Homo sapiens: one gene and its partners. The protein of the gene in region 3 interacts with the protein of the main gene of each other region in a pairwise test. Each region holds a gene or a part of one and is shown on either strand. Other genes may lie near its edges.

Region 1 (4,046 bases), on a different chromosome or scaffold from region 3:
GTGGTACTAAAAATGGGGAGATTCAAATCCACTCATAATTTTAGCTGCTTTTGCTGTATTACTTAGACTGTATCGCTCCTTCCCATAATTCACCCTTCAGCCACCCACCACCTTGGATCCCATTTTGTTTGTTCTATGTTAAATTTCAATGTAATGTAGTTTAATATTGTCAAAGTCGAAGGCTGATTTCTCTCTCTAATGCTGCAAGAGAAGATGACATGCTGTAGGTTGTGATGAGGCAATGTGATCCAAAGCAGAATCCTTGCTTTTGTTGGAGAGCACTGGACATATAAAGACACTGGGCGTATTTGTCAAAAGAACAGAAGGTGGAAGGAAAGGAAGATGATCTGGCAGTCAGGTAACACCAATCCCAAGTCTCCACTGACCGCTCCCGTCTAAAGAGAGCACAGATTATAGTTTGCCCCCATGAGATTGCCATTTTGGGTTGGAAGATGGTCGCAATTTCATTTTTCACTTAAGCAAACGTCCGTTGCCGTACTGCTAGGTATGAGATGAGTAATCGTCAGGGACGCGTTTAAATTACAAAATAATGGTAAATGGGAGAGAAAGAATCTTTTCTCGGGGTTGAGGCCAGATCCTCCAGGGCTGGGAGACCCAGGAGTGCGGGCCACTGTGCACCCTCGAGCAAAGCAGTGTGTGACGAGATGGGATCTTCCCTCAAATGCTGAGAAGAGCCCTCGCCAATCCCTCGGAAGGTTCCCAGAATAAAAAGCCCGGTCCCTGCTGTGCAAAGACTGAGCGGTACTCCGGTGTACTTTTTCCCTGTCCCAGGCGTGCAGAGTCCACGCCGCGCGGCCAGGTGCCCCAATAGTGTACCTGAAAGTAGGGATGGGGCCAGTTACAGCTGCACTTTCCCTGCAGAAGACAGTGAGCCTTCCCGGGATCTTTCTGGGAGCTCTGAGTGTGAAAACGGTCCTCCGGCCAGCGCAGGTTGAGAGAACGGGAAGGAGGGGGAAGCTGTGGGCGCCCAGGGCGTGACAGGCGCAGGTGAGAAAGTGAGTTTCGCGGGAGCATCTGCCGGGACCGCAGACAGGTGGAGAAACGCAGTCCCACCGCGGCCCACCGCGGCTCCCGGGCGGCCTGGGCTGTACCTGTGCGCGGCGTCCTTTCTGCGCTGAGCCAGGGCACCCCGGAGCCTGCGGCCTCCTTCCCCGCCCCTGCGGCCCCGGGTCCCAGCCCCGCCCCGCCCCGCCCCGGGCTGGGGCTCCGCTGGGGAACCGGCCGAGCGGCGCGCGCGGAGGTGTCCGGCGGCCAGGAGGATGGCCAAGGTCCCGGAGCTGGAAGACACCTTCCTGCAGGCGCAGCCTGCGCCCCAACTGTCCCCGGGGATCCAGGAAGACTGCTGTGTGCAGCTCCTGGGCAAGGGCTTGCTAGTCTATCCGGAAGAAACAGTGTACCTGGCGGCCGAAGGGCAGCCCGGGGGCGAGCAGGGCGGCGGGGAGAAAGGCGAAGACCCGGAGCTGCCGGGGGCAGTGAAATCAGGTGAGTGCTCTGCCGCATCCGGAGCTGGGAAGGGGACGGGGACGTATTCTAAGAAGGGCACCCAATAATAATAATGCATCCCGAACAAACATAAGGCAGATATAGAATGTTCTGTCCAAATCTTTGTATTTCCTCAGTAAAATGTCAAGTAGAGACCTGACATTTTGCATAGCCCCCCTTTCCTCCCCTCCGCCCCCACCCCAGTAGGCTACTCCTTTGAAGTTAAGGTACACTTAAAGGCGACTTAGTTGATTTTATATTCTATTTTTCTTTATCATCCCTTCAACTGGCAATCAGAAATGCACTTAAACAATGGTAACTTTTCCTCTGAAGAAGAGGACGCCGACAACCACGACAGCAAAACCAAAGCAGCGGATCAATACCTGTCTCAGAAGAAAACCATCACGCAGATTGTGAAGGATAAAAAGAAGCAGACACAGCTCACGCTGCAGTGGTGAGACTCGCCCGCAGGGTACACTGAAGCACCTGTTGACGTTTTAACAGCCAGCGTCTTCAGGATCTTTGATTTTCACAATTTACTTCTTCCTCAAACTTTTTGGGAAAGTTTAAAAAACCAATTAGAATTTAACCCAGAATTTTTTTCACTGAATTTTTAGTATAGAGACTTATACAAGTACTGGTGAAGGATTTGCAATACAAATGAAAACCACATTACGTTGTTCCTTATTGACTAAAACCATATTTTCTTCAAATGTAAGCATTAATGAACGTTTTTATGACTTACTGGCTTAATATGCAATCAGTTCAGTCCTTACATATTTGTTGTTTGATAGTTTTTGAGATTATAAAATATGATTCTTAAAAACAACTTAAAATGAGGAAGGATCTTAACACTGCCTTTATTCAAAAGAGGGCAAATTAAAAATAGTGTATACTCCATAAGATGAACTGTGTTTGAGGTAGAAGACATAGAAAAAATCGGTTAAGATATCTATACTAACTTAAATAGAAGTTCAACTATTTTTATACCATCTATCATATATGATTTATAATAATAAAATATTACAAATTGGATTTTGTGGAAAATCTTTTAAAACCAAGAATTTATCAGTAGGATTTCCACATAGAGTGAACATTTTGTAATATCTATCTAAAAGAAAGACGGCTCTAAAGTAAAAGCATTATATTAAACTTTCCTACGTAGTGGGAAGAAATAGGAGCATAAATTTCCTCACAAATTCCAAGTAAAAAACAAACTAATAAAAAGGACTATATATTTACTGATTAGTTACATAACCTAATTTTGTGTAAAGTATGATCTAAGGAGCCTTAGAAAAATACAAGATAAAGAACTAGTAAATTTTATTTTTATTATTTATTTAAATATTAAATTACAATTTACATATAGTAGTTTTTTGTGATTATATGCTTGAACCCTTTCAAAATATTTGAAATATAAGCCAAATATTCATCTAAAGTTGGAGTTTAACTATTGAAGTTGATGTCGTGGTTACTAGTTAAGAATATACTAGAGCAGTTAAGTAATTGAGTTAAATATCTGGGATATTTAGGATACAACTATTTGCAGCAGGATAACTGGGGCAAAAGTGTTTTGATTTCAGATATATTATTGAGCTGTTTCGAATGATTACTCCATTTTTTCCATTTAAATTGAGTGTGTGGAAATATATGTTTCTTTTATGAATAAATGTATACATAAATATATATAAGTTAAGATCAAAGAAAAAACTTGTACCCCAAATGAACATCATACTTATGTCTAGGATGATTTAATATTTTGAAGACAAAGACAATGCCGACTACAACAGTATCAAAATAGCAAGATGAAATGTGAACATTGTGTACATGTAATTAAAATATAATTTTTAAATAGATAAACTAGAACTGAAAATCAAAGTGAAAAAGCTGGCTGATTAATTCCAGTTTTCACTATCAACTAGTATGTCAACTGATTTTATGTACATATATTGATTTCATATTTTGAAACACTAGATCTTAGTTTTTGGTCTTTTTTTGTTCTTCATTAAAAAAATGAGTGATATTTTACCTGTTCAGGGAATACTTTCTTTAGCCTTTATCTTGTACACATTAGGATATTTTAAATCAAATCTTTGAAGGGTTTCATCCAATTTTAATCTGCAGACTCTATATTGCATCGTTTCTGCATTATAATAAATATTATCTTACTATACATAAAATTGGTATAAGTAAATTTTAGTCAAAATCACCTACTGAACTGTTAGGAAAACTGGGATTGGAATCTAAAAGTTTAATTTCTACATTGCTGTTTAGAAAGTTGTAACACAAATATGTATTTATTACATTTATATAAGTTATGCTTAGTTACAAATTAAATGGAATTACTTCAAATTTTCAAAGGTTATATAGTTATTTTTATAATATAAAGTTGAAGGTATATATGTTATGTTTGGAGATATCTATAGAGAATTACATTATCTTTTAAGTGTATAGGATGTTTTAGATAATTATAGTACTGATGACAGTAGTAAAAAGTATAGGAATAGAAATATATCAGTGTCATTTCAGACTTAAGTAAAATG
Region 2 (2,263 bases), on a different chromosome or scaffold from region 3:
TATTCCTACATGCTCACATATTTTTTCTAAGTGAAATTTTATTTTCCAACAGAACAAGAGACAAACAGCTGACTTTGGCTTTCTTTCTGAGAGCCCCCAATCACATACATTCAGAAGAGTCATAGCCCCAGGCCACTCTCCGGGCAAGTGCTTTCTGCTGTGCTCCAAAGCTTATGGGGTTAGAGGTCAAATATCAAGTCCAGCCTGCCACAGATTTGTGGCTGGGTCTCTGCGCACAGTTTCCTTAAGAAGCTGTGCACCTGACTTGGTTGGGCAAATGAGCATGTGAGCACATGAATAAGGAAAACAGTAATCTCAAATGCATCCGAATAAACCTCAGGGCTGAATTTTAACAACCTTCCTGCTTGCTAGGTGTATTTTCTAGCTTATACTTCCCCAACAAGAGTTTGTTGACTGCCTACTACCTAAGCTGCACACTAGAATCAGATGGTGCTTGAAAAATGACTGTGGGACTGGAAAAGACAGAATCCAAGGGAAGATCGAGTCATCATAAAAACGTTTTATTAATCAAATATATTTACATTTCTTGGTCAATGATCTCTAAATGTGTACCTGTTTTTTCATTTAAATACAACTTAATCCTGGTAGATTCCATCACAAGAATACAGCAGCATGCATGATCTCATTGGTCCTTTGCAGTTATTTTTTCATTAAATAATGTGAGTTTAATAAAGTTAGAAAACTTTATTAAGTTTTACCCATTCTTACTGTGGGATAATCATTCTTGTCATATCAGTGGCCCTTACAGCAAACTACACACTCCTTATCACCCACAGTGAGATTCTTCTCATTCTCTTAACTGACTTGTTTAAGCTTTCCAAACTCCAAAAGGCAGATGTGAAACTGGGCATTCACTCTAACCATTTTATTTGGTGGAAAGTTGGAGAGAGACATATTTCTATTCCAGTAGGGAACATTTACAGTCCTAAACTTAAAATAACCACATTAAAGAAATGTATACAATGTCCTAATAGCATCTAAATATCACACTTCTATTAGCATCCTACAGAACTGGATGTCTTCCCCTTGATATAAAAAAAATAATTAACTTGGGACATTAAGTTTCCAAAATAATTTTGCTGATCTGAGCCAAAGTTTTCCTTAATTCGTTAGTCATCACCTTAGCCTCTGCATTTAAACTGGGGGAAGGCTTTTTCATGAAATACTTAGAACTGCTAAGGAGAATAATTTTGCCTCTGGCTTTTGCTATACATTTTCTCCAGGTTGGGAGAAACTAGAGAAGTGTACTAGATTGTTCAGAGAAAGTAAGTCTACAAGTGCTGATTTTGTTAACATTAGACAATGCCCACATGTGGATCAACAGGGACTGTGGGTTGGCAGACTTTTGCTCTAAGATGGCTGCTTTCCCCAACATGTGGCAATCACCTGATACGGCATAATTGCTTTTAAACATGAAAGAGTTGTGCTGTAGAAATAGATCTCCAGCTTGTTAAAGTTTATATCTAGACTGTTTTCAGTTGGGAGTGATGTACCAAAGTGGGAGAAAGGCACCAACAAGGATGTTTTTCAAGGCAGGAAACAGGAGATATCAACCAGGACCCACCATGTTTGACAAGGAAAATATATTTATCATTTCAACAAACAAATGTGCCCATTAGAATCAGAATCTGGAGGAAAGTAGTATACATTGTGGTTTCAATAAACCACGGTAAAGAGTTGTAATAAAGCCAGTTCATGATGAAATTTTGTACACTTACTTTTTGAACAAACCTCACAGTTTCATCTAGATTGTGCCCCAGAACTTGAACTGGTTCCTTGAGTACCTCATGCATGTAACTACACTATCTGTGCCTTTGACAAACCAAACCTATAATGACTCCAGTCTTTCTGCTGCACTGCTTTAAACCAACAGGCTAACAACATAAGCCCATATTCTTAATGCACACAACTGCGTAATGACTCCATTGATGCCTGGAAAGTAACTCACTTAGCATTCAGTCAGAACAAAGAAAGAAAACGAGATTTCACTTAGCCCCGTTGAGGATGTGTTTTTACCTGTCGATAGTGTTCGAACCTTATTCTCTTCTGGCCACCCTCCAACACAACCTGCCCTTCCTGCCTGTTGCCATTTGTCCTAATGTATATCACACTTGAGAGGGTTATTTTTTTTTCTTTCAATGTGGAATTTTAGATTCCTGCTTAGAAAAACAAAAACAATGCCTGACAGCAATGGAATAGTTGAAATTCTGTCCAGCAATGAGATTTGGGCATGACAAAATCA
Region 3 (3,500 bases):
CAACTAGAGCCCCAGAATCCGCCTGCATCAGGCAGTCAAATGCCCCACCCTGGGTTCCCCCATTCCTCGACTGGCCCGAGGCTCTGGGCAGGGTCATGGCCCCCACTGCCGCTTCCACAAACACTGTCCCCCCAGAGGTCCCAGCACACCCTCGGGCACTTTGGACCTGGCCCTGCCACATCTCCCCACTCCTGGGCCTCAGCTTACCCCTTCTGAAAAGACGACCTTGGCCATAAACCCAAGGCCCCTTATGTTACACACAGGAACAAGGCGCCAGGAATGGTGCCCTAGCCCAGTGGGCACAGAGGGCCAGTGCCGGCTTCGCAGGCACGCTGGGACTGAGGGGCTCCGCAGGGAGGTGGTGGCACGTGTCTCTGCTCCTGCAGCCACCCACTGCCTCCTGGCTGGGCCCTACACAAGCCATGCTCTCCCTGGCAGACGAAGCTGCCTTCCCGGTCCAAAGTTCTGAACCCGGACAGGACTCCTCTGCGGAGGATACCGGCCTGTGGTCAGAGAGCCTGTGCTGTTGGGGCTGGGGCAGACAGAGCTAATGCCCCATCTGCCCCCAACCCTGCCCATGGTGCTGGACCAAGCCCCCTCGTGTCTTCCAGGTACCATCACACAATCCCCGTCATCAGCCTGTACAGCCTGAGAGAGAGCCTGGCCCTCATTGCGGAACAGGTGCATGGGCTGCACTCCACAGGAGGAGACAGGGCCACTGGCTGGATTGTCGAGGGCGCGGCCTGCAGAGAAGGAACCATCCCTGGTGCACAGAGAAAAGGGAGCCTGCCAGAGAGAGGCCCTCAGTGGGGGTGGGGGAGAGAGGACAGGGCCCCGGGTACACTGGCTGCGGGCAGGGCCAGGGGGATACAGCCCCAGGGACAGATGCAGCAATGGGGCAGGTGTGGATGCTCCCAACCCTTCCATTGCTGTGTGAAGCAGTAAGTGAGGCCCAGTGAGTGGGTGGGCTGGGAGAAGGGGAGGCCGAAGGGGCCAGAGATGTGCCCACAGATAGGTGGGCGTGGATGTAAAGTGAGGGTTGGCAGTTCCTGCAGGCTTGTCCAGCTCCTATGGCAGGGCAAGAGCTGAGCATGAGCACTTGGGTGTGACCAGGGGTTGATTTGGCCACTGCAACATCCACACTCTCAGGACACTGCAACATCCACACTCTCAGGACACAGGCGGCTGAGAGTGGCCTCAGGCCCAGCAGCTCTGCAGGCCACGAGACAGGAAGTCCCACCTACTTTCATCTGGGTCCTGTGTCCCACAGGGCCCATTGCCAGCCACCAGTCCAGAGTCCAGGAAGGATCCCCGGGCTGCAGCCAGCTTCCCATGAGGTTGCAAGGCCGTGCCTGCCACGTTTGTCCTCCTGGGTCCACTCATAAAGCCACTGCCTAGGGCTGGGTTAGTGCCAGGGTGCCCCTGTAAGCTAAATGCCACCCGCACCCGCGGGGGAAGGCGAGGGGTCAGGCGCTCACACAGGGAAAGGCTCTAGGGTCGTAAAGGTGGGTGGGGGGTGTGAGCTGGGCAGAGAAGGAAGAGAACAGGACCAGACAGCAGGGCACAGTCAAGGGCAGAGGCACAGGGACCTGGCAGAGTGCAGATTGCAGGGGCACATGCGCAGAGAAGACGGGCCAGGGCCAGAGTAGAGAGCAGCTGCTGCTCCGGGGACCCACCTGGGGTGGCCATGAGAGCTGGTGGCTGGAGGCCGGGAGGACCCGTGACCAGAGGTAATGGCACTGAGGGGCCCAGGGCTGGAGAGACCACCCCTCACCTGTCCAGAGCTGAGGCAGGAGCAGTGCTGCGGAGGATGCCAGGTCGGGGGAGCTGGCCCTGAGAGGAGAGGGGGCCTGGGAGCCAGCACCCTGAGCCCTGGCCCTGATCCACTCCAGCCCTGTGTAGCCCAACAGCCCTTCCCCTCCTTGCCCAGTCCCCTCCCCCTGCAAGGCACTCTCCACTCTTCTCCCCCAGGGGCCACAGGCAGACCTCCCCTCTGTCTCTCTGAACCCTCCTCTGTCTCTCCCAGACCCAGATGTTTCCTTCTGCCCTGGGGTAGTCCCAGGCCCTGCCCCAGGCAAAGTCAAACTGGGGGCTCCAGGGGCTCCCCTGCACCAAGGCCTGCAGAGTCAGGTTCTTCCTCCCGCACCACAGAGGGCGGGGCTTCCTGCCCACCCCACCCATGTCACTGCCCACCAGCGCCATCTCCCACACAGGGCCTGGAGAACAGCTGGCGCCAGCACCGCGAGGCCGCGGCGTATCTGCATGGGCGCCTGCAGGCACTGGGGCTGCAGCTCTTCGTGAAGGACCCGGTAAGGAGGCCCCTGGCATTGGGCAGCCCTGCACCCATGGGGAAGGATGAGGGGCTCTTGCCCAGCCCCCTCAAGAGGGACACTGGCTCCTGAGAAGGAGGGGGCGGCTGCCCGGTGGTGTGGCCTCGGTGCCAGGGATTAGTCTCGGCAGGAGCCACGAAGTCACAGCTCCCGGCCTCTGATGCGGGATCTCAGGACGGCCTGTGATCTCCCAGTGGGAAGGTGCCCATCCACCGCCTCCTAAGGGGTGGGGTCCCTGCTCTCTCCCGGCCCTTTCTCCCCCGGCTCCTCTGGAACCTGAAGCTGGGGCAGATGGTGCAGGCCAAGAGCTGTCACAAAGGCCCGTACAGGGCCTCTCACCCACGCACTGAGCCAGGCCCCTCCTGCAGGCGCTCCGGCTTCCCACAGTCACCACTGTGGCTGTACCCGCTGGCTATGACTGGAGAGACATCGTCAGCTACGTCATAGACCACTTCGACATTGAGATCATGGGTGGCCTTGGGCCCTCCACGGGGAAGGTGAGAGGGAGCGCCTCGAGGGCCTTTTGCAGAAACCAAACCCGCCACCCCTCCTTGAGCAGGACTGTGCACCAGGTGCAGGGGAGGCCGGGGTCATCCGAAAGCCCAGATTGCAGGAGCGTCCAGAAGGGCCCACTCTCCAAGGGGTATCCAGTAAAGCGTATCCTGTCGCCCCTGCTCCCACCCCAGCCCACTGAGGTCACCAGGTGCAGCCTTTATGATTCCACTCGGAACATCCTTCCTTCCCTCTGACCAGACCCTGGAACCAGGCCGGAAGCCCCACGCCTGGGCCTGGCTGTGTCTCTGAGTGGCAGTGGGGAGGGACCTTCACTGCACCACCCTGTCCTCCCGTGTGGCTGCGGGTGCAGAGGGAGGAGAGCCTGCCCTGGCCTGGGTGCTCAAGGGCCCCCTCTGTGACCTGCACAGGGCTGTCAACTCCCCTCATGGACGCTGGGTGGGTGGTCCTCACTCAGGTGAGCCCATCCTGGCTCTGGCCAGCTGTCGGTCAGGGTCAGGCAGGTCCCAGGCGGGAGGCTGACGTCAGCCCGCCCTGTGCCCCCCAGGTGCTGCGGATCGGCCTGCTGGGCTGCAATGCCACCCGCGAGAATGTGGACCGCGTGACGGAGGCCCTGAGGGCGGCCCTGCAGCACTGCCCCAAGAAGAAGCTGTGACC
Region 4 (2,342 bases), on a different chromosome or scaffold from region 3:
TGCAATCTTGTGTCACTGCAACCTCTGCCTCCTAAGTTAAAGTGATTCTCCTGCCTCAACCTCTCAAGTAGCCTGGGATTACAGGTGTGCACCACCACACCAGGCTAATTTTTGTATTTTTTGTAGAGACAGGGTTTCACCATCTTGGCAAGGCTGGTCTCAAACTCCTGACCTCAAGTGATCCGCCCATCTTGGCCTCCCAAAATGCTGGGATTACAGGCGCAAGCCACTGCGCCCAGCTGTAGCCACTTACTTTTTCTAGTAGGAGGCACTGCCTGCGAGTACAGGAAGTCCTCCTGACTGTCTGCCTTCCTTTTATCCTGCTGTAGACCCATTGACTAGAAGGAGTTCCTGCATAGGTGTGTGTCTGTGTGTGTGTGTGCATGGGTGTATGATCTCTGTGTGTGTGTAGTCCTTCGACAATCTAACCTCATCCTCTCTTACTAAAAGGAAGCCAGGCAATGGGTGTTAGGAGGAAATAAACACTGTAGCCTGGCGAATGCGTTTTTAAGAGCTTTTTATTGGCAACAGTGCAGAACCAAGGGGAGAGGGGACGGCCCATTGCCAATCTGTCCCAGCCCCCCGGGGTCAGATGCAAAATACAAAAAGAGAACCACAAGTACAGCATGGGGTAGGGGGGTCGGGGATTCATTGAATTGTGGTTGGCAGGAGCAAGCCCTGCTCACACTCTCACACTCGCACCCAGAATTGTCAAAGATACAGATTGTAAAAATCTACGATCCCTCAGTCTCACTCACAAAAAATAAAATCTCATGTCCCCAACGAACCCAGAGTCAGACGACAGCTGGAGCATTGGCAGGGACAGTCAGAAAGGAGACAAGTGAAAACGGTCAGATGGACACAGGCGGAGGAGAAAAGACAGAGGGAGAGAGACCATCGGGAACAATCAGAGGGGCCGAGACGATCAGAAAAGGGTCAGCCCGAGACAGGCTGAGCCAGAGTTTCTAGAAGCAGTTTCCAATTCAACGGCTCGCTTTGAGGGCCAACGTGACCTAGGCCGAGGCTGCAGAAGCGCTCACACACTCACGCGCACGCACACACACACATCCATATATAATATATTTACTTATACATAATAGATATAATTGCCTTTCGGAAACCAGGAAAGGGATAAATAGCTAAGGAATGGGTCTGGGATCAGGATGGGAGACGCGCGACAAGGGGCACGTGGAATGTTTTTCATGCAGCACGGATGGAGGGCGGCGTGGTCCACCCCCCGATATTAAAAAATATAAATTTGCCTCATAAAGAAATCCTCATGAGATGAAGCGCAGGGAACGGCGGGGTGGGAGAGCCAAAACCATGGTCAGGGATGGGCGGACTCGGGCATGGAATCATGAGATTCCAGCCCCTTGAGTCTGCCAGTCCAAAAATATTGGGGGTTTGGGGGTACCAAAGCCTCAGCTCTGAAATCTTCTCCGGAAAAATGTCACAGCCCCTCACTCCCTTCCTGGAGAGGATGTGAGGGGCCAAGGGGTGGGAGAAGTTGGCGTCCTAGGCTGGGGATTGGTCGGGGGACCTTAAAGAAAAAGGCCAGGGCTGAGGGTCCTGAGGAGAGAGAGAGAGGCCACGTGGATGGAGGACTGTCACCCCCTTCTCGGTTCTGTCACCCCCTTGAGTCTAACTCACTGTTGAGGGGAGGAAGAAGGGGGATGGACGGAAGGGAGACCGAGGAAAGGCTTTCGGGAGTGGGGACATTATCCCCCCAGAGGTGTGCTGCCCCACCCAGCTGCACCCCACAATCTGGCCAACTCATTTCACAGTATAAATCACTCCAGCAGGACGGCATCACAGCAGCCCCTGCTGCCTGAAATCAGAGCGGCCCAACGAGGAAGGCCAGGAGGGTCGGCTGGCAGGGGGCAGGGTCTTGGGATAACACTGTCATCAGAAACAAGGCTGGGGGCTGATTTCGGGGTGGGGAGCCTTAGGAGGCCAGAAATTCCAATCAGAGCCAGTTTTTCTGGGAGGGAGTGGCTAGACAGTCAAGGAAGGACGTTCACATTTCAAAAGAAGTCGGGTGGGGGGATGAGATTATTCTAGGGGGGCATCGAATTCCCTTTAAGGGGGGGGCTCACTTCTGCCCAGAGTAAAGAGGATCTCACACCATGGAAATGTGGGATCAATAAGCTAAGGTCGGGAGTGCAGGGGAAACCAACCTAGGCACCCCAAAAAAAGGGTGGGTGTGGGAGACATTGGGTAGGGAGTGGCATTTTTCCTTGTTGAGCCTCTCTGGAGAGGACTCCAGCCCACCCCACAGCCTACCTCCCACCCCCGTCCCTTAATCCTCACACAGGACTGCCCGAAGGTGGGCGTCACCCGCC
Region 5 (3,500 bases), on a different chromosome or scaffold from region 3:
AAGTACATATATGTCTACAACATAGGTAACAAAATAATTATCCTAGAGCAAGGTTTTATGTAATTAAGTAATGTAATTTTATGTAATTAAGTAATGTTATCCTAGAATAGAGATAGTTGTGTCAATAAAAAGCACGTAAATTTGATAATGGATTTGCTTTGTGCAAAACTGAATAGGTAGGAATTCCTTTTCTAGAAAAAATAAGATGAAGAATCATGTAACACATTTTCTATACTGTGCAACTAGTAAAATGTAAAAATAATATTTATAATAGAAATTAGCTTGCTCTATCTAACAAGAATTCCTTTGCCTGGAAAAAAAAAGTGTTTTCATAATATGTTACTAAATTGTTAAAACTCAGGTTACAAAGTAGGATATACAGTATCATCCCAAATTTATTTCTTAAAATGTAACCCGAAAAGCCGTAGTAATAAATAAAACAGTAGCTCTTTCTTAATAGTATGATTACAGATGATTTTTACTTAGTGCTTTTCTAAACTTTCTTCAGTGTTTACTGGTATTATTTTTTGAATCAGAAAATATAGCTTTACACTCCTAAGAAACCATAGTCAACACTATAAATGAAAGACAGCAAAGGTGTAAATAGTTCAGAAGTGACTTACTTGACAGCTAGACTTGTTTTTACACCTCTTGTGGATTTCCTCAAAGCACTTCCACACTGCACTGAAACTGGATTTATTTGCTGGTCTTTCTTGGGTCTTTTGTTCTTTCATTCAGTAATTATTGAGCCTCTATTATGTGCCAGGCACTGTTCTAGGCACCGAGGATTTAGCACTGAGTATAATGGATGAAGTCTCTATCCTTCTTTGATATGGAAGACAAAGACTAAAAATTTTTAAACAAAAACATACTTTTAGTGGAGAAACACAAGCACACAACACACACACCTCTACTTTTAAGTGTGATGAAGAAAAGTAAAGGAAAGAGGAGTAGAGCAATAGTAAGGTGGGAAGAGATGATAGTTTTAGTGAAGGGAGCACTCTGAGGAAGTGCTATTTGAGCAGAGACCTGAGTGAAGTACGGGAGTTGGCCAGAGAAAGGTAAGAGAGAACAGTCTAGGTAGGGGGAATATCAAGCAAAGAGGCCTTGAGGTGGCACTAAGCTTGGAATGTGCCAGAATAAGACCAGTGTGGTGAGACTGGAACGAGCAAGGGGAGAGCAGCAGATGGCATGGAAGAGGTGGGTGGGCCCAGGTCATAAGCGCCTTACAGGTCCATGCAGGGATTCTAAATTTATTCTAAAGGTGATACAAAGGTACTGAGGTCTTGAAACAGTGATGGCCTGGACCAAAGCAGTAGGGTAATGGGATGAGACATGGTCAGTATGGATATATTTTGATGGCTGATCCAGTATAACTTGCTGATGGATTAGATATGAGGAATGAGGAAGAAATCATGGACAATTCTTAGGTTCTTGGCCAAAGCAACTAAATGAGTAGTGTGCCATTTACAAATCTGGGGCTGACTGGTGACGAAACAAGTTGTGAGCGGCAAAACTGAGACCTATTTTGGACATGTTAAGTATGAGATGACCATTAGACTTCAAGTCAAGATGTCGGGTGGGCAATCATAATTATAAGTCTGCCATTTGGGGGCAAGTTGGGGCTGAAGGTATAAATCTAATATTTAAAACTATGGAACTAAAAGATATCTCCTAGGTGTTGGGGCAGAGAGAAAAGAGAATAGGGCTGAAAACAGCCCTAAGGCGTGCCAACATTAAGAGGTAGGGAAGTCTATTCACCTCACTAGAGAGACCAGTGAGGCATCCCAGAAGCCAAGTGAAAGTATTTTCAGTAGGAGACAGTGATCCCCTAAGTTAAAGCTGCTGATGAGTAAGTTAAGGATTGAGAAGTAACCATTGGATTTGGTGACTTTGATAAAGGTAGCTTCAGTGGAGTGATGAAAACAAAAAAATTGGTGTACAGTGATCCCTCCTACTCCACAGTTTCATTTTCTGGGGTTTCAGTTATCTGCAGTCAACCAGAGTCCGAAAAATATTAAATGAAAAATTCAAGAAATAATCCGTAAGTTTTTAAATTGCATGCCATTCTGGGTGGCATGAAGAAATCTTACACTGTCACACTCCATCCTGCCCAGGACATGAATCATCTTTGTCCAGTGTACCCAAGTTGTATACGGCAGCTGGCCTCAGTCACTTAGCAGCAGTCTCAGTTATCAGATCAACCCACAATGTTGCAGTACTTGTGCTCAAGCAATCCATATTTTACATAATGGCCCCAAAGTGTGAGAGTGGTGATACTGGCAATTTGAATATGACAAAGAGAAGTCATAAAGTGCTTCCTTTTAATGAAAAGGTGAAAGTTCTCAACTTAGTAAGAAAACAAAAAACAAAAAACAAAAAACTGTATGCTGAGGTTGATAAGATCTACAATAAGAATGAATCTCCTGTCTGTGACACTGTTAACAGTATATAGTTATAATTGTTCTATTAAAAGTTATTGTTGTTAATCTCTTACTGTGCCTAACTTATAAATTAAACTTTATCATAGGTACATATATATAAGAAAAAAACACAGTGTATTAGAAGTCGTTTCAGGCATCTGCTGGGGGTCTTGGAACATATTCCCCATGGATAACGGGGGACTACTCTATGTTCAAGAGAGAGTTAGAAGACCACTAGGTACAGAAGAGTTGACTGCTGTATCCCTACCATCTCGGTAGCTCTTGGTATAGAGTAGGTATTGAATAAATGTCAAATCTGAAAATTCTCAATACTTCAACCCAAATTAAGAAACCCAAAATGGTGGAGAGCTAGAGAGCTTCCTGCTCATCCAGTTCTATTCCTAGCCTCCAGAATGAGTGAGGATGGATTGTAAAAACATGAGCTTTTTTTCTCTTCTTTCTTAATTTGCTGTATATCTAGGGCTAAAACGTAATAAGCATTTTGATTGGTAGCTGAACTAAGAGATACGAGAAACACCTTCTCCTTCTGCTCCCCAATTTTCCTTAAGTTATATGTAACTAAAAGTTAACAAATAAATTATGACCATGTTACCAAGGGGGTTAAAAAAAAAACCACCACCAAAACAGCAGTCAAATATTTTAAATAAAACATCTTATTCCAAAACTTCTGCTGATACCTTAAAGACAGACACTTATTTTGCAAAATAGGTAACTTTCCCTCTTCCCAATTTAGATCTCTTTCCATTTCTCAAAAGTGTAAAGTAAAGCCTTTTGTGGAGAAAAGGCAATGCCCAGATAATGGGTTTCCTACCTGACATAATGTCTTCTGCTAATTCCTTTTCTCTTTCAATTTTTTCCTCTAGAGTTGAAATGCAGAATTCATAGCCAGCAACAGCAAATTCCTGTCTGTAAAGCAAAATCAATAATCAGCCATTTACCTTTTCTTCTTTTTTTTTTCTTCCTTCTGTTGAGATGGAGTTTCGCTCTTGTTGCCCAGGCTGGAGTGCAATGGCGTGACCTCGGCTCAGAGCAACCTCCACCTCCGGGGTTCAAGCG
Region 6 (4,143 bases), on a different chromosome or scaffold from region 3:
CTCAGTTGGCCGAAGCTTCTGATCACACAGACAAGAATCTCCGCTCGCTTTCCCGCTGGCCTCCAGGCAGCCAAGTTCACTCAAGCTCTCTCAAAGCTTTTGCAAGAGTGGGTCTTAAATCCTGGCGGGGGGCACGTGCACTCATTTAAGACTTAAAAAGGAATCGGAAATGACTGTCCCCATGCCCACTGCTGCCCACAAACCTGAAGACCCAAGCGACCACACTTGGTAGGCACTTCTGCCCTTCTGGTCTGGTTCCCACCCGCCCATCCCGAATCGCGGTTATCTTTCCCGGTGCTCACAGCATGCAGACCACAGCCTGTGGCCGCTAGTGTTTCCTTCGCTAGGACCACGGGTAATTGTCTTGGCTTCGCATCTTTTGACTGGCAGGCAGGTGGACAGGGACTTGCCCTACCTCAACCCGGTCCCCAGCTTGGCACGAGCAGATAAATCTTGAAAAAGAAAAATGATCTGGGCCGTTTAACCGTGGCATGGCGGGTCCAGATCCCCAAACCTGTCACTAGTGACGTCCCACGTGGCAGATTCGCTCTCAGGGAAGCCCGTCACCGTTTTTGTCCGGGACATCCTCCCCATGCCCACCCTCCGCTCCGGGAATTCACCCTCGGGGCCGCCCCGCCTCGTTCCCTCCCACAGCCCGGCGGACCCGAGACGGGAAGGGCAGGCACTCCCTGCAGAGTCCCTGGGGCGCCCGTGGCTCGGGGTGCGCGGTGGGACTCGGTGAAGCCGGCGTCTTCACCCCAGAGCCGCGGCTTCGGGGCCGCTGGAGGAGCGAGAGTGGCGCCCGGATGACTGATCGCCGCGGAGAAAGTCCCCCGGGACTGTGACCCCCGCGCCGGGGGGCGGACGCAGGGCGTGGCTGAGGCGCAGGAAGATGCCGCGATGGGACCGGGAAAAAACACCGACCCCAAAACACCCACTGTGTTTCTCAACCTGAGTTCCCCGGCAGCCGCCGAAGGACCCCAAAGGCTGCATGGCGCCCCCCTGGTCCCCACCCCCCCGGGCGTCGCCTCGCGTGGGTGGGCTTCGCGTTCCCTCCGGGGTTTCAGAGCCACCACGTGACTTCCACGAAGCGCGGGGCGCCGGCGGAAAGCCGCGGCAGGGGTGGGATTTGGGACCCCGAGGTGCGGAGAGAGGGCGGGCAGAGGAGGAAACGAGGCGGGGGTGGGAGAAGGAGGGCGGGGCAGACGTGGGACGGGAAGGACGGCTGCCGGGACTGGCGCGCGGGGACACTGGGCCGACGCGTGGAGTAGCGGGGAGAGCGGGAAGCCTGAGGGGGCGGGGCCGGCGCGAGGCCGTGGGTGCGGCACGAGGATGCCGGCGGCGGGACAGCGCCCGTAGGCAGCCCCACGGGCAGGGCGCGCGGGCGGGGCGGGGCGGGCCGGGCCAGAGGAGCGCCCGGCATGTCGCAAGGGCTCCCGGCCGCCGGCAGCGTCCTGCAGAGGAGCGTCGCGGCGCCCGGGAACCAGCCGCAGCCGCAGCCGCAGCAGCAGGTAGAGGGCGAGAGGCTCAGGGAGGGCCGTGGGGTGCGGGGACCGGCGCGCCGCGGGGGGCGAGGAGGTGGGTGCTGGAGTTCCGTGGTGGTGACTGCGGAGGTGCAGAGGTGGCGGGTGCGGCCGGAGACAAGCAGAGGTAGGGGCGTAGGGATGTTGGGGAATGGGGGCGATCCAGGGACCCTGTCGTGCGCACAGTGTCCGCGGCTCCTGGAATGGCTCCTGAGCCAGCTCCTGCGCCCTCTGGGGGAAGAAGCCCGAGGGCGCCGACGCCTGGCTGGGCCGGGCATGGCCGGTGCTCCCCGGCACGTGGGCTCCGCACTGCCCTGAGGGCCGCCCCATCCTGGCGCAGCCAGCGACTGCCACCCCACCACCCGCGCCTGTAGCCCCTCCAGGATTCCCCCGGGTGGGGGGGGTGCTGCCGCGGGAATGGAGAACGCCGGACTAGTCAGCCTGGGCGGAGGGAACCCACAAAGGGCCGACTCCGCCCCCAGCTGGTGGAAACCCTTTGCCCCTTCCCAGTTCGCTGTCCCCTAGCAACGTTTACAGCGGCGCAGTCAGGAAGGAGACCAGGTTGGCCACAGGGACGGCCGTCTGGAAACTTTGCCTGGGTCTTGGCCACCTGCCTTACGACGAAGACTGGGTCTTTTCATCCTTACTCCCCACCTTCCCAATTCAGCGCCCGGCCCATGTCATCAGGTGTCGCTGGAGTGTCACAGAGATCTGAGTTTGGGCCTGGGCTTTGCCACACACAGGCTGAGCAGCCTTGAGCAATTTGTTTAACCTCTCGGACCGTCCATTTCCCCATCTGTAAAATGAATATAGTAACATCAACCTCTCAGGATTTTTGAGACTGAATCAGATATGGTTAATAACATAATACTATCTCTAACTTTCGCTCACCTCTTTCTGTCTTGATTAAATGTTTCTGCTGGGTTGGCAGGTGTGATCATGGTGATGAGTCCAGTTTAGAGTCAGCTCCCCGAGGGCAGTATGCAGGCTGCTTTCTTGTGCTAGTGACTTTTTGATTACAGAGAGCAAAGAGGCATGAGAAGCACTATGCAGAATACATTTTTTTTTAAAGTAGCAACTTCAACAAAGGCAGGTAACTTCTTGAGGGCATACTGTATGCTGGGAGCTTTAGGACAAAATCTCATTTCATCGCATCCCAATCCTAAGCATTAGGCTGTTAGCACCAAGTCTGCAGAGTTCACTGACCCTTTGTTTAGGGCTTGTATCCCCAGTGTCTAGAACAGTGTCTGGCACATGGTAGGTGCTCAGTTAATACATATTGAAAGAATGAATGAATTATGCTTACAATAAATGAGAAAACTGAAAATTTAGAGAATTTAAACCATTTACACAAGACCATGTTGACACTAAGAGACAAAACTAGGATCTGTGTGATTCTAAAGCTAAAGAGCTGTCTTCTAACCACATGTTCCCCTGTAATGTTCTGGTTTTGTTTATCAAGACTTCTTTGCCTCTCTAGAAGACTGTATTATCATACTTTGTTCCCTTAAGCTTCTATTTGCTATGTATGTTATTTATTCCTCTCCTTTTTATGCCTTTATATTCTTGCATATCTGAAACTTCTTACCTGCAGTAACTTGGGAAGATGTGTGTCTTATGTGGAATACAAGATGAGATCAAATGATAACTGAAAATATCCTTTTTTGTGTTATTAATATTTGCATTCCGTGAATATTAATAACTGAGTAGTTTTCCTTGTTTGTACCTCTTGGCTCTTAAACTCTGTAAGTGTGGTATTTTTCCCGCTTGGTGGTGTCTTCTCATGGGGTTCTAGAAAGCAAATACTGCTCTCCTTTTTCATGTTTTCTATAGCTGATTGAAGTGTTTTTACCATGGTCAGTGCATTTTTCCGCCTGCCTGTTTCATGATCACTATTGAGGGATTTGACTGAATTTGGTTAAATCTTACATATAGCTAACAGCTTTCAAGACACATAAAAAATTTGCTGACTTCTGAAACAAAATGTCAGCCAAGCATTGTTCAAATGAGTACACTGTCAGTGGGGTTTAAGATCATTTGGTGTGTTGGTAGAGTTATGTGGCTGCAATTAGTTGTAAGTGTAATCATGATTTGCATGCAGTATCAAAAGTACCTTTCATGTGTGGTGGTATAAGGACTGGCAAACAGCAAGTTCCAGATAGCAGATCTCTCCACCGCCCCCCACCCCCACCCAGCTTTCCAGTCTCAGATGGACGACATTGACACCACAGCTCTTCCAGGCACACGCCCTGTGGGCTAGAGGTTTATGAACGTTGATTTGGAGACCAACAGACCTGAGTTCCACTTCCCACTCACCCACTTAGTGGCTGTAATACCTGGAGCAAGGTCCTTAACCTCTCTGAGTTTCTTATTCCTCATCTTTTAAACGGCGGTCACACCACACACTTCACACACTCACATGGTGAGTGCTCCTGGGCAAGGGGCTGTTGTGAGCCCATTGGTATAGCAACTAGTGGTGCTGTCTACTGCAAAGCAAATGATGAAGCTCAGTGAACAACGCTGAGTGATGAGACAGGGCAGAAAAGGGTAAGGCGAGGGGCCACGACATCACACCCACCCAGTGTTTTTCCCCAGAGCCCTGAGGATGATGACAGGAAGG
Region 7 (3,500 bases), on a different chromosome or scaffold from region 3:
TCATTGAATAAGCCATTTCTCTAAGACAGTGGCTTATTGAGATTTTATGCCATTTTCTTATTATTTAGTTGAGAAATACATTTTGTGAGGTTTCTATAGCAAAGCTGTCTTACTGCCTATGTGTAAATGGGTTTGCTTCTACACAAGTTGATTAATAGTCTGGCTTAAGCATCTGGTTTAACCATTGGTTTGAAAGTATAGGGGAGGAAAAAACCACGAACATTGTGGAGCATAAAATACATTACAGATAATAGGTAATCAGGCTGCAAAGGCCTTTAGTTCAAGATGTTCTTCTATCTCTAACTTGTCTAATCCAACCAAAAAAATTAGATTAGGATCTGTGTATACCAGTGAAACCAGTAGAACGACTGAGGTAAATCAGTATGTGTTGATTCTTCTTAAGGAAAATGTTAAAAGAGTTTTTTTCCCTCGTGTTCACTACATTTTCGTTCCTGTTCTGTTGCTATTCCCCCAAAATATGCACAGTCTTGAAACGCAGCTTTTAAAAACCTACTAAGATTATTAGGCAAAAGCAAACAAATCATAGCAAGATCCTTTTGGTATTTTATCATATACCTTTTGCAGCTGTGATTATTTGCTATCTTATTCATTCCAGCACTTTTTTTTTCCCTATGCTCTTTATTTATATGTTCTAGATAAATGCTAGGAAACTTCTCCAGTAAGGCAGCTTGGTTCCCCTGCCAAGCACTGTAGCCATATTCTTCCCTGACCTTTGCTCTTTGGGTGATGCTCTGCCATTCGTGCCCGTGCTTTCTATTTACATAAAGGATTAAAGATATGAATGATAGAGAAAAGCTAGCAGATTGCATCCATTTTCCTTGCTTTGCCTGGTTTCTAGTACCCCGATTCCATCATTTTTCACTTGGCATTTCTTTCATTGTCCTTTGCCTGGAAGCATCAGCCAGTCCTCAGGAGTGCTTGTTTGGGTGGATTTGACTTGGAGAAAAGCAGCAGTGATGGGAGAGTTTGACATCTGGAGACTAGCTCGCTGCCCTTCTGGGATAGACAGCAGTCTCTGGATGATCTTTCTGCTCTGTTACACTGCTGATAGTTTCAGAGATGAGCCTACTCAAGGGTCTGTAGTTCCAGTGTATTGTAAAAAATCAAATCACAGTGAACTCATAGCAAGCACTATTTTTTCTCAGTTCTTAAGAAAGGAGACCTCCTTTCTAGGTTATATAATCTAGATCATTCTGTGAGGATAAGGTGGAGGCAGGGATCTAGCATTTGCAGAAGTTTGGTGAGAAAGCATGTGTTGCTCAAGAAAGGACAAGTTCAGTGTTGAAGTGTAGATGGCCTGGTGGGCAGGGGAGCAGTGGAGCTGGAGGGACAGGCTGGGAACAGGCTACAGAGGCCCTGAAATCTCCTATGGAGTCTGGAGTTTAGTGATGTGATCTGATTTGTATTTTCTTAGAAGTTTCCCAATTGCAGTGATGGACTGTAGTGTTCCAATAAAAGCCCTCTGGTTTCAGGGCTGGAGGGAGAGAGAGCAGGAAGACTGATCCAGGTTGAAGAAGGCTTGGATTTGGGTGATGGCAGCAAGGATGGAAAGTTAGTGGACAAATTCAAATTTGAGAGCTGCGATGACTGGGTGGAGGGAAAGGGGGAGAAATACATGAAAAGGTTGTATTACGTTTCCTCCCCATCTCAGCGTGAGACCTGGGACTCCTGTCTTCTGTCATCACTTCTTAGTCCTCACACTTGTGAGAGGCAAACTGTATTATAGGTCGCCTCCTACCTCACAAGTCACAATAGGATTCAAGAGCAAATGCATCTGAGCCTCTTTAAGAGGCCTACAATTGCAAGGAAATTAGACAGATCTTCAAAATTAGCTGCTGGTAGATGATCACATTTGGCATTGGCACTTGTGACTCTTGTGTGCTCCCAATGCCTGCTGGTGGAACTAAACTTCCACTGTGCCTTTGGCTGCTAAAAATGCTGGTAGGATCATAATGCATGCAGCTTCTGCAGAGACTTCTTTGGAATACCTCAGTAAGTCTGACTTCATGTTATATCTATACTGAGTAAGATGGAAACCAGGGCCGAGCGGCAGTGGCTCATGTCTGTAATCTCAACACTTTGAGAGACTGAGATGAGAGAATCACTTGAGGCCAGGAGTTCAAGACCAACCTGGGTAACACAGCAAGACCCTGTCTCTACAAAAAATTTTTAAAAAATTAGCCAGGTGTGGTGGCATGCATCTGTAGCCTCAGCTGCTTAGGAGGCTGAGGCAAGATCAGTTTGAGCCCAGGAGTTTGAGGTTGCAGTGAGCCATGATAGCGCCACTGCACTGCAGCCTGGGCAACAAAGTGAGATCCTATCTTAAAAAAAAAAAAGAAGATGGAAACTAGGCCCTTCTTTTATGTTTCTTAGGAGCCCTTAGGAATATACTTTTTGTTTGTTTTGTTTTGAGATGGAGTTTCTTTCTGTTGCCCAGGCAGGAGCGCAGTGGTGGGATCTTGGCTCACTGCAACCTCTGTCTCTGGGGTTCAAACGATTCTCCTGCCTCGGTCTCCCAAGTAGCTGGGATTACAGGCGTGTGCCACCATGCCCAGCTAATTTTTGTATTTTTAGTAGAGACGAGGTCTCACCATGTTGGCCAGGCTAGTCTCGAACTCCTGACCTCAAATAATCCACCTGCCTTAGCCTCCCAAAGTGCTGGGATTACAGGCATGAGCTACCATGCCTGGCCAGGAGAAGGATTTTTGAGCAGAATTCAAACCAATGATTTTTGTCTTCCCTGTGCCGGGTATTTGAAAAAACCATAGAGGGGAAGGAAAGGCAGTCTGTGTGTGTATACCATGACAGAGGGAGAAGCTGAAATAAAATGTGCCCCGAGAAGAATTAGGGCTGGGAGGATGGAACAGCAAGAATGATCCTAAATCAAGTATAATAATTTTTTGTGTTTGTTTTTTTTTTTGAGACAGAGTCTCACTCTGTTGCCCAAGCTGGAATGCAGTGGCATGATCTTGGCTCACTGCAACCCCCGCCTCCCGGGTTCAAGTGGTTCTCCTGCCTCAGCCTCCCAAGTAGTTGGGACTACGGGCACACGCCACCATGCCCAGCTAATTTTTGTGTTTTTAGTGGAGACGGGGTTTCGCAATATTGGTCAGGTTGGTCTTGAACTCCTGGCCTCGTGATCCACCTGCCTCAGCCTCCCAAAGTGCTGGGATTACAGGCATGAGCAACTGTGCCCAGCCTAATAATGCTTTTTTAAAAAATAGCCCGGGCGCGGTGGCTTATGCCTGTAATCCCAGCACTTTGGGAGGCCAAGGCAGGTGGATTGCTTGAGGTCAGGAGTTTGAAACCAGCCTAGCCAACATGGCGAAACCCCATCTCCACTAAAAATAGAAAAATAAGCCAGGCATGGTGGCATGCGCCTGTAATCCCAGCTACTTGGGAGGCTGATACAGGAGAATTGCTTGAACCCAGGAGGCGGAGGTTGCAGTGAGCTGAGATCATACCACTGCACTCTAGCC

The links.
Region 1: the proteins of AGXT (region 3) and RFX6 interact in binary tests that used the Homo sapiens proteins (3 or more experiments, as listed by UniProt).
Region 2: the proteins of AGXT (region 3) and PRDM6 interact in binary tests that used the Homo sapiens proteins (3 or more experiments, as listed by UniProt).
Region 4: the proteins of AGXT (region 3) and FOSB interact in binary tests that used the Homo sapiens proteins (3 or more experiments, as listed by UniProt).
Region 5: the proteins of AGXT (region 3) and TTC19 interact in binary tests that used the Homo sapiens proteins (3 or more experiments, as listed by UniProt).
Region 6: the proteins of AGXT (region 3) and BATF3 interact in binary tests that used the Homo sapiens proteins (3 or more experiments, as listed by UniProt).
Region 7: the proteins of AGXT (region 3) and FNTB interact in binary tests that used the Homo sapiens proteins (3 or more experiments, as listed by UniProt).

The regions. Positions count from the first base shown.
Region 1 is NC_000006.12:116,875,996-116,880,041, forward strand, and holds the start of RFX6 (DNA-binding protein RFX6), read left to right. Parts: upstream 1-1,246; 5' UTR 1,247-1,280; coding exon 1,281-1,503; intron 1,504-1,800; coding exon 1,801-1,957; intron 1,958-1,967; exon of another isoform or gene 1,968-2,215; coding exon of another isoform or gene 2,216-2,217; intron 2,218-4,046. UniProt on the Homo sapiens protein: Transcription factor required to direct islet cell differentiation during endocrine pancreas development. Specifically required for the differentiation of 4 of the 5 islet cell types and for the production of insulin.
Region 2 is NC_000005.10:123,192,504-123,194,766, reverse strand, and holds the end of PRDM6 (putative histone-lysine N-methyltransferase PRDM6), read right to left. Parts: 3' UTR 501-2,263; downstream 1-500. UniProt on the Homo sapiens protein: Putative histone methyltransferase that acts as a transcriptional repressor of smooth muscle gene expression.
Region 3 is NC_000002.12:240,875,324-240,878,823, forward strand, and holds part of AGXT (alanine--glyoxylate aminotransferase), read left to right. Parts: intron 1-611; coding exon 612-681; intron 682-2,213; coding exon 2,214-2,309; intron 2,310-2,698; coding exon 2,699-2,827; intron 2,828-3,390; coding exon 3,391-3,498; 3' UTR 3,499-3,500. UniProt on the Homo sapiens protein: Peroxisomal aminotransferase that catalyzes the transamination of glyoxylate to glycine and contributes to the glyoxylate detoxification.
Region 4 is NC_000019.10:45,473,338-45,475,679, reverse strand, and holds the end of FOSB (protein FosB), read right to left. Parts: 3' UTR 501-2,342; downstream 1-500. UniProt on the Homo sapiens protein: Heterodimerizes with proteins of the JUN family to form an AP-1 transcription factor complex, thereby enhancing their DNA binding activity to gene promoters containing an AP-1 consensus sequence 5'-TGA[GC]TCA-3' and enhancing their transcriptional activity.
Region 5 is NC_000017.11:16,006,324-16,009,823, reverse strand, and holds part of TTC19 (tetratricopeptide repeat protein 19, mitochondrial isoform 1 precursor), read right to left. Parts: intron 3,351-3,500; coding exon 3,256-3,350; intron 847-3,255; coding exon of another isoform or gene 818-846; exon of another isoform or gene 760-817; intron 1-759. UniProt on the Homo sapiens protein: Required for the preservation of the structural and functional integrity of mitochondrial respiratory complex III by allowing the physiological turnover of the Rieske protein UQCRFS1.
Region 6 is NC_000001.11:212,697,041-212,701,183, reverse strand, and holds the start of BATF3 (basic leucine zipper transcriptional factor ATF-like 3), read left to right. Parts: upstream 1-1,343; 5' UTR 1,344-1,421; coding exon 1,422-1,511; intron 1,512-4,118; coding exon 4,119-4,143. UniProt on the Homo sapiens protein: AP-1 family transcription factor that controls the differentiation of CD8(+) thymic conventional dendritic cells in the immune system.
Region 7 is NC_000014.9:65,028,395-65,031,894, forward strand, and holds part of FNTB (protein farnesyltransferase subunit beta), read left to right. Parts: intron 1-3,500. UniProt on the Homo sapiens protein: Essential subunit of the farnesyltransferase complex. Catalyzes the transfer of a farnesyl moiety from farnesyl diphosphate to a cysteine at the fourth position from the C-terminus of several proteins having the C-terminal sequence Cys-aliphatic-aliphatic-X.